Homo sapiens: one gene and its partner. The protein of the gene in region 1 purifies or fractionates together with the protein of each later gene. This does not show direct contact. Each region holds a gene or a part of one and is shown on either strand. Other genes may lie near its edges.

Region 1 (3,500 bases):
ATCTACACGTATAGACTAGTAAGTTAAGATTAACCCATTGGCTCTACAGAAATAAAAGAGAGCTACCATGCATCCAAGAAGGCCAACCTGTCTAATAGAGATAGATCTGGATTTTTAATTAGTGGAGGAACCAACTTTGTATCACCCAACAAGGAAGGTGATGAAAAGATTCGGAGACATTTTTATACTATATTTCTCATTGTTTCTAGAATGAAATCCATAGTCTTCAAGCTGGAAGTAGCTTTTTAGTTCACTCATTATTTATTCATTTAATTAATTGTTACTATTTGCCAAACACTGTGATCAAGTGTCTGGGCTCCTTCATGAGGAATCTGTGGTCATAAAGTTGGTTAGAGATAGGGCCAGAAACAAACCCCAGATGTTCTGTATCCAGGACCCTTTACCCCACAGGGCTGTTAAATATCTCCATGTAGTTATATTCAGGTGATTAAATAGGAGAGCATCTGTGTATTGCATGTGACCTGCATGTAATTCATGTAATAAAGATGAAATACAAACCCTTTGCCAGCCATTTCTTTATTACTCTAAATGCCACGACTTAAGGTTCAGCATCGGGGCTAATAATATAAGAATTAGTTTGGAAATTCTGCAAATAAATATTTTCCTGTCTATTCATACTCTTTGATTCAAATATTTCAATCATGTCCTTTCTCAAATGTTGCCTTTACAGATTAAAATCCTATAAATAGCACTGACCCCTGAGGAACATGATCTTCTTACCCCTATCTTTAAGTATTAATCTAGACAGTTTCCTACTGATGACAAAATAAATACCCCAGTCTCATGGTGGCTTTCTTTTTAAAGGATTTGTTTTGCAGGGGGGTGGGGGGGATATACAGCACATAGTTCATAACAATGTGAAATTGCATTTTTGGAAGTATCTATACTCTTCCTTTATACAATTAAATCTCCCTACTTGCTAAATATTGCTAGACTTGGTGGTTTAGGAGGTTGAGTACATGTGAGCAAAGGGGAACAGCTGTTCTTGCCAGATGCCTTCTTCACTGCACAGACATAAATACTGCCCAAGGAGCCTCTGCAGGGCAGACTGAGATCTAGTTTGAAGTAGCTGCAAGGAGACCCTTTCTGACATTTTTGCTTGGTAAATTCATTCACATGCACCTTGACCAAAGGATACTAAGCTGAGTGACTAGGACAAGAATTCTGAATGCAAACTACTCAGGTTCAAATCCTGGCTCTGCCATCTACCTTACCAGCTTTTTGACACTTGGCAAGTTACTTAACCTCACTGTCTTCAGCCTCCTCATCTGTAAGTGGGGATAATAGTAGTTTCTTCATAGGATCGAGGATTATATGAATTAGATATTATCGTTAATAATTCCAGCAACAAATACCTGTTAAGCTCCTATTCCATTCCAATTACCGTGAATGAGGGAAATTGTCCCCCACTTCATGGAATTTAGAGTATTTTTTTCACACTAGAAGCCCTGACCCATCTAAGGGTTGGGAAGTCAATGCAGTAAGGTGTGACCAGATTTAGTTTTACATGAATTCGAATATGATTTTACAAAATAAGAGTTTTATGAAACTTTCTTTCCCTTGCATATATTTTTATATGAATGTTTGGCCTATGTCTTGATATAAAAGTATTTCTTATGAGTCTAGTGAGAAGATTAGCAATTAAACAGCAACCTCAATACAGTGCATAAGATAAATGCAGTGAGTGTCACGGGCACGTGCGAATGTCACCCGACCCAGTAAGGGCAGGTACAGAGAATCAGGCAAGCCTTCCCTGAGGAAGTAACATTTAAGCTGAGACTTGAAGGATGAGTAAAAATTTACCAAAAGAAGTGGGGTGGAGGAGGAGAAACAGTTCCTTTAAGAGCAGTGAGTAGACCTGGGTGGGTAGGGGAGTAGTTAATGAAGCAAGGGAGAAACTTGTTCAGATTTGCATTTTAGTAAGGCCACTCTGGCTGCATGAAGAGAATGGGCAGGAATCAGTTGGGAAACTTTAGTAATTTCAGGACACAGCGGCCTAGACTGGGGTGGGGGCAGTGTGTATTTGAGAGGGATCTTGTACTTACGTAGAATTGACAGGACTTGTTGATTGATGGGGAAAGGTGCTGGAGCCAGAGCACAAAGGTGCTTATCCCACACTTCTGATGTCTAATTTACAAAGGTTTCAAGAGACAAATCTAAGTCTGAAAGCTCCAAGCTCCTAACTTGAAAAAATGTCCCTGTAAACAGGAAGACAGAATCTTTCAATCACTTTGCAAATCATCTCCCTATCCTGCTGGACATATCTGCAGGCTGTTGCTGGGCCTAGGAGTTGGCAGGGCTTCCTGTTCCAAAGTGGGAGGGTTCCTGGCAGGAGATGGAAGGCTGGAAACAGAAAGGAAACTGGGCTAGCCAGGCACCTTGCATGAAGAGAAAAGAAGGGAAACCTGGTACTTTCCCATCTGATCCAGAAATTATCTGGTCGGAAAATAATTTAAAAGTACAGGTAATTCAAAGATGTTTATATTTGGCTTTGAAATGCCATGCATTTTTGGCACTAGACTTACTTTGCCAAACATTTTTCTTAGGCCTTATTTTGCATTCCCTGAACATGGACCATCTGGGCAACAGGGGGATGAGCCCAGAGCTCAGAGGGAGTCTGGGTGGGTGGCTGAGGAGGTCCTAATATTCAAAACTTGGAATGAAACCACAACTCTCTCTCATCACCCCAGGTGATCAGTACTTATCTGTCTACCTGTGTCCTGCCACAGAGCAGGGAGCTTTTTGTGATCTAAGCCATGCCATGTCATATGGTGAACTGAAAAACAGCTATCTAATTCCCAGCACACCAAATGTTTCCTACTTACATCTTCCTACTCACAGGGCCACCTCCACCCCGCTGGAGTGGCAGGCAGGGCTCCACAGCAATCTCAAAATCAAACCGTATTTGGAGCACAAGACAGGCTGTTTACAGATGTTACCATAAAAGACAATTTAAATAATCATCAGTACCGTTTTACAAAACAGCTGGCCAGACCGGAAGGCCCCTTTTCCAGTTATTCCTAAGATTGCTGCTTCCAGAGGAGTTGAAAGGTTAGATTACCTTCCCTGGCTCAGGTCTACCTAGCACAGGAGAGTCGTGCCTCACAGAAATCACTTCAAAAAGGATCTCAGCACCACATCCCACTAGGGCTTAGAAGAATCCTCAGGGTGGCAGCCACTCCCTACTTAGGAATCCCATGCATTCCCCTCTTCTTCCATCTGGACTGTGCCACGCCAGGGAATTCATTTGGTCCAGGCTAGAATTCACTGGGAACAATTAGCAACAGGCCCAAATCTGGAAGTTCAGAGAAATTGGTTCTCTCCGATTTGTTATAAAATTAAGTAATATTTTTCACAATCACCACAGAGAAAAGGGCATTTCCTAGTTTCCCAGTTCTTACAGGTCAGAATGGTTGGTTCACAGGAAATCCTTAGTAGGCGCTCTGTGATGCATCTATGTTTTTCCAAGTGTTGGTATT
Region 2 (4,963 bases), on another chromosome or scaffold:
CTTTCTTCACATCTTTAAGTTCCTTAGGCATCTTTAAATCGTTGTTTTAAAGTCTTTCTCTAGTAGATCTGCCATCAGATCTTTTACAGGAACAGTTTCTTATGTTTTCCTTTGAATGGGCCATACTTTCTTCTTTCTTTGGGTGCCTTGTGATGTTTTTGTTGTTGAAAAATGGACACTTGAATCGAATAATGTGATAACTCTGGAAATCAGATCCCCTTCCCAGGTTGATGATTCTTGTTTTTGGTTGTTGTAGGCTCTCTGTGCCAAGGCACAGCCTGAGGTGTGAACTTCAAGGTCGTGTCAAGTCTTTTCTGAGCCTATGCCTTTGCCTGGGCATGCATTGGCCACTTCCGAATTTTTCCTATAAATGCAGTTACTTTTGAATGTCTTCATTCATAAATATCTGGCTTTCAAGAAGGGGAACAGATGAAGGGGGTGGTGAAGACATTGGCCCTTTAAATTCCCTGGAGCTCTGTGGGGGTGAGGAGGGACCTGTGAACAGGGGAAGATGCAACAGTGGCCACTTACCTCTTCGCACCTCTGTGGTCAGAAGCAGCAGTCAGTGATCTGAGTACAGATCTCCGGTGTGGAGGACAGGGTTCTTTTTGCCCAGCCAGGCTGCAGGCTGTGTGCAGGCAGCTTTAGGAACACATCAGCACATGCACAGCTGCCTGCGGGGTGGGAGGTGGGGCCTCGGTAGCCACTGCCCAGCTGAGAGCTGCAAATGACCACAGTTAACCACAGTTTACCATTTATGCCTTTAATAGACTCCAGAGTTCCAAAGATAGTTACCTCAGACACATCCTGCCATTGCAGTTGTTGTTAGCTAGGGAGATGTGGCTTCCTGCTCTGCCGTGTTCCCAGAACACCGCATGCAGGCAGCCTTTTATGTGGTGGTGGTTGTTTATGTTGTGTCTTGTGCCTTCTCCCTAGTGCCTGAGATTGTGAGGGAGACCCAGGACCTAATTGAACAAGGGGCACTCCTGCAAGCCCACCGGAAGCTGATGGACCTGGAGTGCTCCCGGGACGGGCTGATGTACGAGCAGTACCGCATGGACAGTGGGAACACGCGTGACATGACCCTCATCCATGGCTACTTTGGCAGCACGCAGGGGCTCTCTGATGAGCTGGCTAAGCAGCTGTGGATGGTGCTGCAGAGGTCACTGGTCACTGTCCGCCGTGACCCCACCTTGCTGGTCTCAGTTGTCAGGATCATTGAAAGGGAAGAGAAAATTGACAGGCGCATACTTGACCGGAAAAAGCAAACTGGCTTTGTTCCTCCTGGGAGGCCCAAGAATTGGAAGGAGAAAATGTTCACCATCTTGGAGAGGACTGTGACCACCAGAATTGAGGGCACACAGGCAGATACCAGAGAGTCTGACAAGATGTGGCTTGTCCGCCACCTGGAAATTATAAGGAAGTACGTCCTGGATGACCTCATTGTCGCCAAAAACCTGATGGTTCAGTGCTTTCCTCCCCACTATGAGATCTTTAAGAACCTCCTGAACATGTACCACCAAGCCCTGAGCACGCGGATGCAGGACCTCGCATCGGAAGACCTGGAAGCCAATGAGATCGTGAGCCTCTTGACGTGGGTCTTAAACACCTACACAAGGTAAAGCTAACCTGGCGCCTGTGTTGGCTCTTAGGTAGAAGCCGTGTGTGAGAGGGGCCTGCAGCTGCTTGCTGGAGAGCCGACCTCAGGGTGTTGCTCTGGGCAGGTGCTCCGAGCCCACAGCCTTGGTTTCCAGCCCAGGGGTGTCTTCTTTCTGCTCTGCCTGCTGGTGCCCAGCCTCTGGTGTTTGAACACTGTTGTGCTTGGGAGGGATCTCTGCTCTTGGCCTCCAGCCCCCGTTGAGCTTGACAGGGTGCAGCTCTGGGCTGGGCCTGTTTCCTGTGCTCACCGTGTGCTGACTTGCTTCCTTGCAGTGACACCCTGAGGCAGGTGTGTTGTTACCCCATTTTACAGGTGAGGACACATGGTCCCAGGCGGGGCTGGGACTGGCACATGGCCACCCCACTGGGGAGGAGACCACTACATCACCTCCCTGGCTTCCAGCATCCCGGGTTTGGTTTCTCTTCACCAATATCCTATAGCAGTGAGTCTTTCAAAAATAAACAGTTACAAGTCTAGATAGTTCGAGGAAACTCCATCATCCTTTTTGTATCCTAGTACGAGGTTTTGTCACTTCACTTAAGGGACCATGAACCACTCTGTGCGTGGATTAATTTGAAGTAGTGTTGAAAAATGGTGCAGTGGTGGGGGTATTCTGAAATTCTTTAAGATTAGGTAGCCGAAATGAAAATTTATTTCAATTTTCCATGGTTTCATGGTTAGAAAATAATATTAAGTAATGTATTGGAATTTCTTCTTCTTCTTTTTTTTCTTCCGCCCATCTTGTCACTGCAGTGGAGAAATTGAATAAACCTCATTTTTTTTTTTTTTTTTTTTAGCAGTAAGGCATATTTTTTTGTGTGCTTTGTTTACTGGTATCTGCTTATAGAGAATTTGCATTTCAATACAGAAGGACAGAAGAGAAAGGAAGCGCCCCCTGCAGAGAATGGTCACCGTGACGCTCTGTGCAATGGTGGCTCTCTGTGCAACCGTGGCGCTCTGTGCAACTGTGGCTCTCTGTGCACAGCCCTGGACTCACCTCCCCTGGCTGCCGCTCATCCTCATGGCCGCCCATTCTGTAGCCTTGACAGTGCAGGTCTCCCCCTCCGTGCCTGGTGTGTGTCAGCAGCCCATGAGGCAGGAGGCAGGGGACACGGCCAGTGAGTGGGAAGCTGGATTCCAGTCCCATCCCTGGGCCCTCCCGGGCCATGGCCACTAGGCTGGGCTGTGCATGTGTGCACCTTGCACAGTTTGTGTCTTGATTTTGTCTTTCCACGTTGTGAGTGTTTTTCTGTCCTTGGGGAGTCTCGTGAGTTCCATCACCCCGGCCTTTCTCAGGGGAGGTTGAAGTGCTCCACTAGAAACATTCTCACACGGAATTGAGGTTCTTGGGAAAAATAATCCAGATTAAATAAAAGTCTTTTAAAATGTGCAGAATTTTAGGAAGTACTTTTTCACTTAGGAAGCTCTCGGATTTCTTATAGTGGACTGGCTCTTAATCATTTTATTCAGTGTTACTCTGAGAACGTATTTACGGAACATAGCATGAGGCGTGTGAGTTGAAAGAATTTTCTGAGTGGTCAAACCTTAGACTTAAAAAAACTTTTTAATTTTAATTTTTGTGGGTACATAGTAGGTGTATCCCGGCTTCACGCCATTCTCCTGCCTCAGCCTCCCGAGTACCTGGGACTACAGGCGCGTGCCACCATGCCCCGCTAATTTTTTTGTATTTTTAATAGAGATGGGGTTTCACTGTGTTAGCCAGGATGGTCTCAATCTCCTGACCTCATGATCCGCCCGTCTCGGCTTCCCAAAGTGCTGGGATTACAGGCGTGAGCCACCATGCCCGGCTGATAATAACTTTCTAATGAAAACTTTTCCTGAAATGTAGCATGTGTTTCCTGTCTTCTGGACAGTAGACCTCACGTAGTTTTGCCTGTTCTTGCGGATGCGTTTTTATCAGTAATGTCCTGTATTGTACGTTCCAGTCATCACCGTCTGCAGAGCATATTGATGTGGACTGCAGTGGCTTGTTTCCAAAGGACAGCACAGCTGCCCCTCCATACTCAATGGGGAGGGATTCCAGGACCCCCCTTGGCTATCAAAATCCTCCGTAGCCCAAGTCCCCTTTATAAAAGGGTATAGTGTTTGCACGTAACCTGCGTACATTCTCCTTCATGCTCTAAATCATTTCTAGATTACTTATAAGACTAAATACAATGTGAATGCTATGGAAATAGTTGTTCTATATTTTTTGAAATTTTTATTATTTTTTATTGTTGTTTTTCCCAAATACTTTCAGTTTGTGTTTGGTTGAGTCAGTGGACGTGGCGCCCGTGGCTGTGGGGGCGGCTGTGCTTGTCGTTTTGACTGAGTACGTTTGTTTATTCAGCGCCTCCTGTTTGCCAGGCCCTGCCTCGGCTCTGCAGGTGCAGTGAATAGAACACACGTCTTCCCCACAGGAAAGGCTCTTCCACATTTGAGCCCCAGCACCTCATGAAGCTGGCGCAGCAGGGTGAAGCTGGGGTTGGAGGGACTCAAGTGGTCTCGGAGCCAGTGGGTGATGCCACAGAGACCCCAAAGCCCTCGGCCCCTGCCCTGCACTTTCCCCGGTTGGAGGGACTCACGCAGTCTGGGAGCCAGTGGGGTGATGCCACAGAGACCCCAAAGCCCTCGGCCCCTGCCCTGCACTTTCCCCTGAGCTGTGGGCCGGCTGTGACCAGGAAGTCTCCAGGGTGGTGGACATTCATGTGTCAAGTGAAACAGTCTCGGCACACTTGGGCATGCTCTTCTGTGTCTGTCGTGGTTTGTCACTCACATTCCTGGTTCCCCCATAGTACTGAGATGATGAGGAACGTGGAGCTGGCCCCGGAAGTGGATGTCGGCACCCTGGAGCCATTGCTTTCTCCACACGTGGTCTCTGAGCTGCTTGACACGTACATGTCCACGCTCACTGTGAGTAGGGCTGGCCTGCGTGCCACAGACCACCGTGCTGGTTATATGAGTAACTAGGGCTTGGCAGCAGGCAGGAGGCAGGGGGGAAATGCCTTAGCGTTGACTTCCTAGGATGCATTGCTCAGTTGCCCGGGCTCTGCTTCCAGGCCTTGACAGGTCAGTTTGCTAGAAGAGGAGAATGGCCCCTTCTCTGGGCCTGGATCTGAAGCTTGTCCTCTGCTGGAGACGTGAGCCTGTGCCCTACTCGGCAGGCTGGCCAGGGCCCAGAACGTCTGAACCGTGTGTGGCAGCACCTGCCAGGCTCTCGGCTCTGAGTCCCATGGTTGGGGGGGTCCGTCAAGGACCAAAGGGCGAGTCCATTTGCAGCCTGGTGACCACCAGGTGGTCTCA

What was found. The genes of interacting proteins can lie anywhere in the genome.
Region 2: the proteins of SCHIP1 (region 1) and EXOC3 purify together in Homo sapiens (affinity purification with mass spectrometry; one large-scale study listed by BioGRID and IntAct). This does not show direct contact.

The regions. Positions count from the first base shown.
Region 1 is NC_000003.12:159,759,244-159,762,743, forward strand, and holds part of SCHIP1 (schwannomin-interacting protein 1), read left to right. Parts: intron 1-3,500.
Region 2 is NC_000005.10:452,434-457,396, forward strand, and holds part of EXOC3 (exocyst complex component 3), read left to right. Parts: intron 1-936; coding exon 937-1,618; intron 1,619-4,455; coding exon 4,456-4,573; intron 4,574-4,963. UniProt on the Homo sapiens protein: Component of the exocyst complex involved in the docking of exocytic vesicles with fusion sites on the plasma membrane.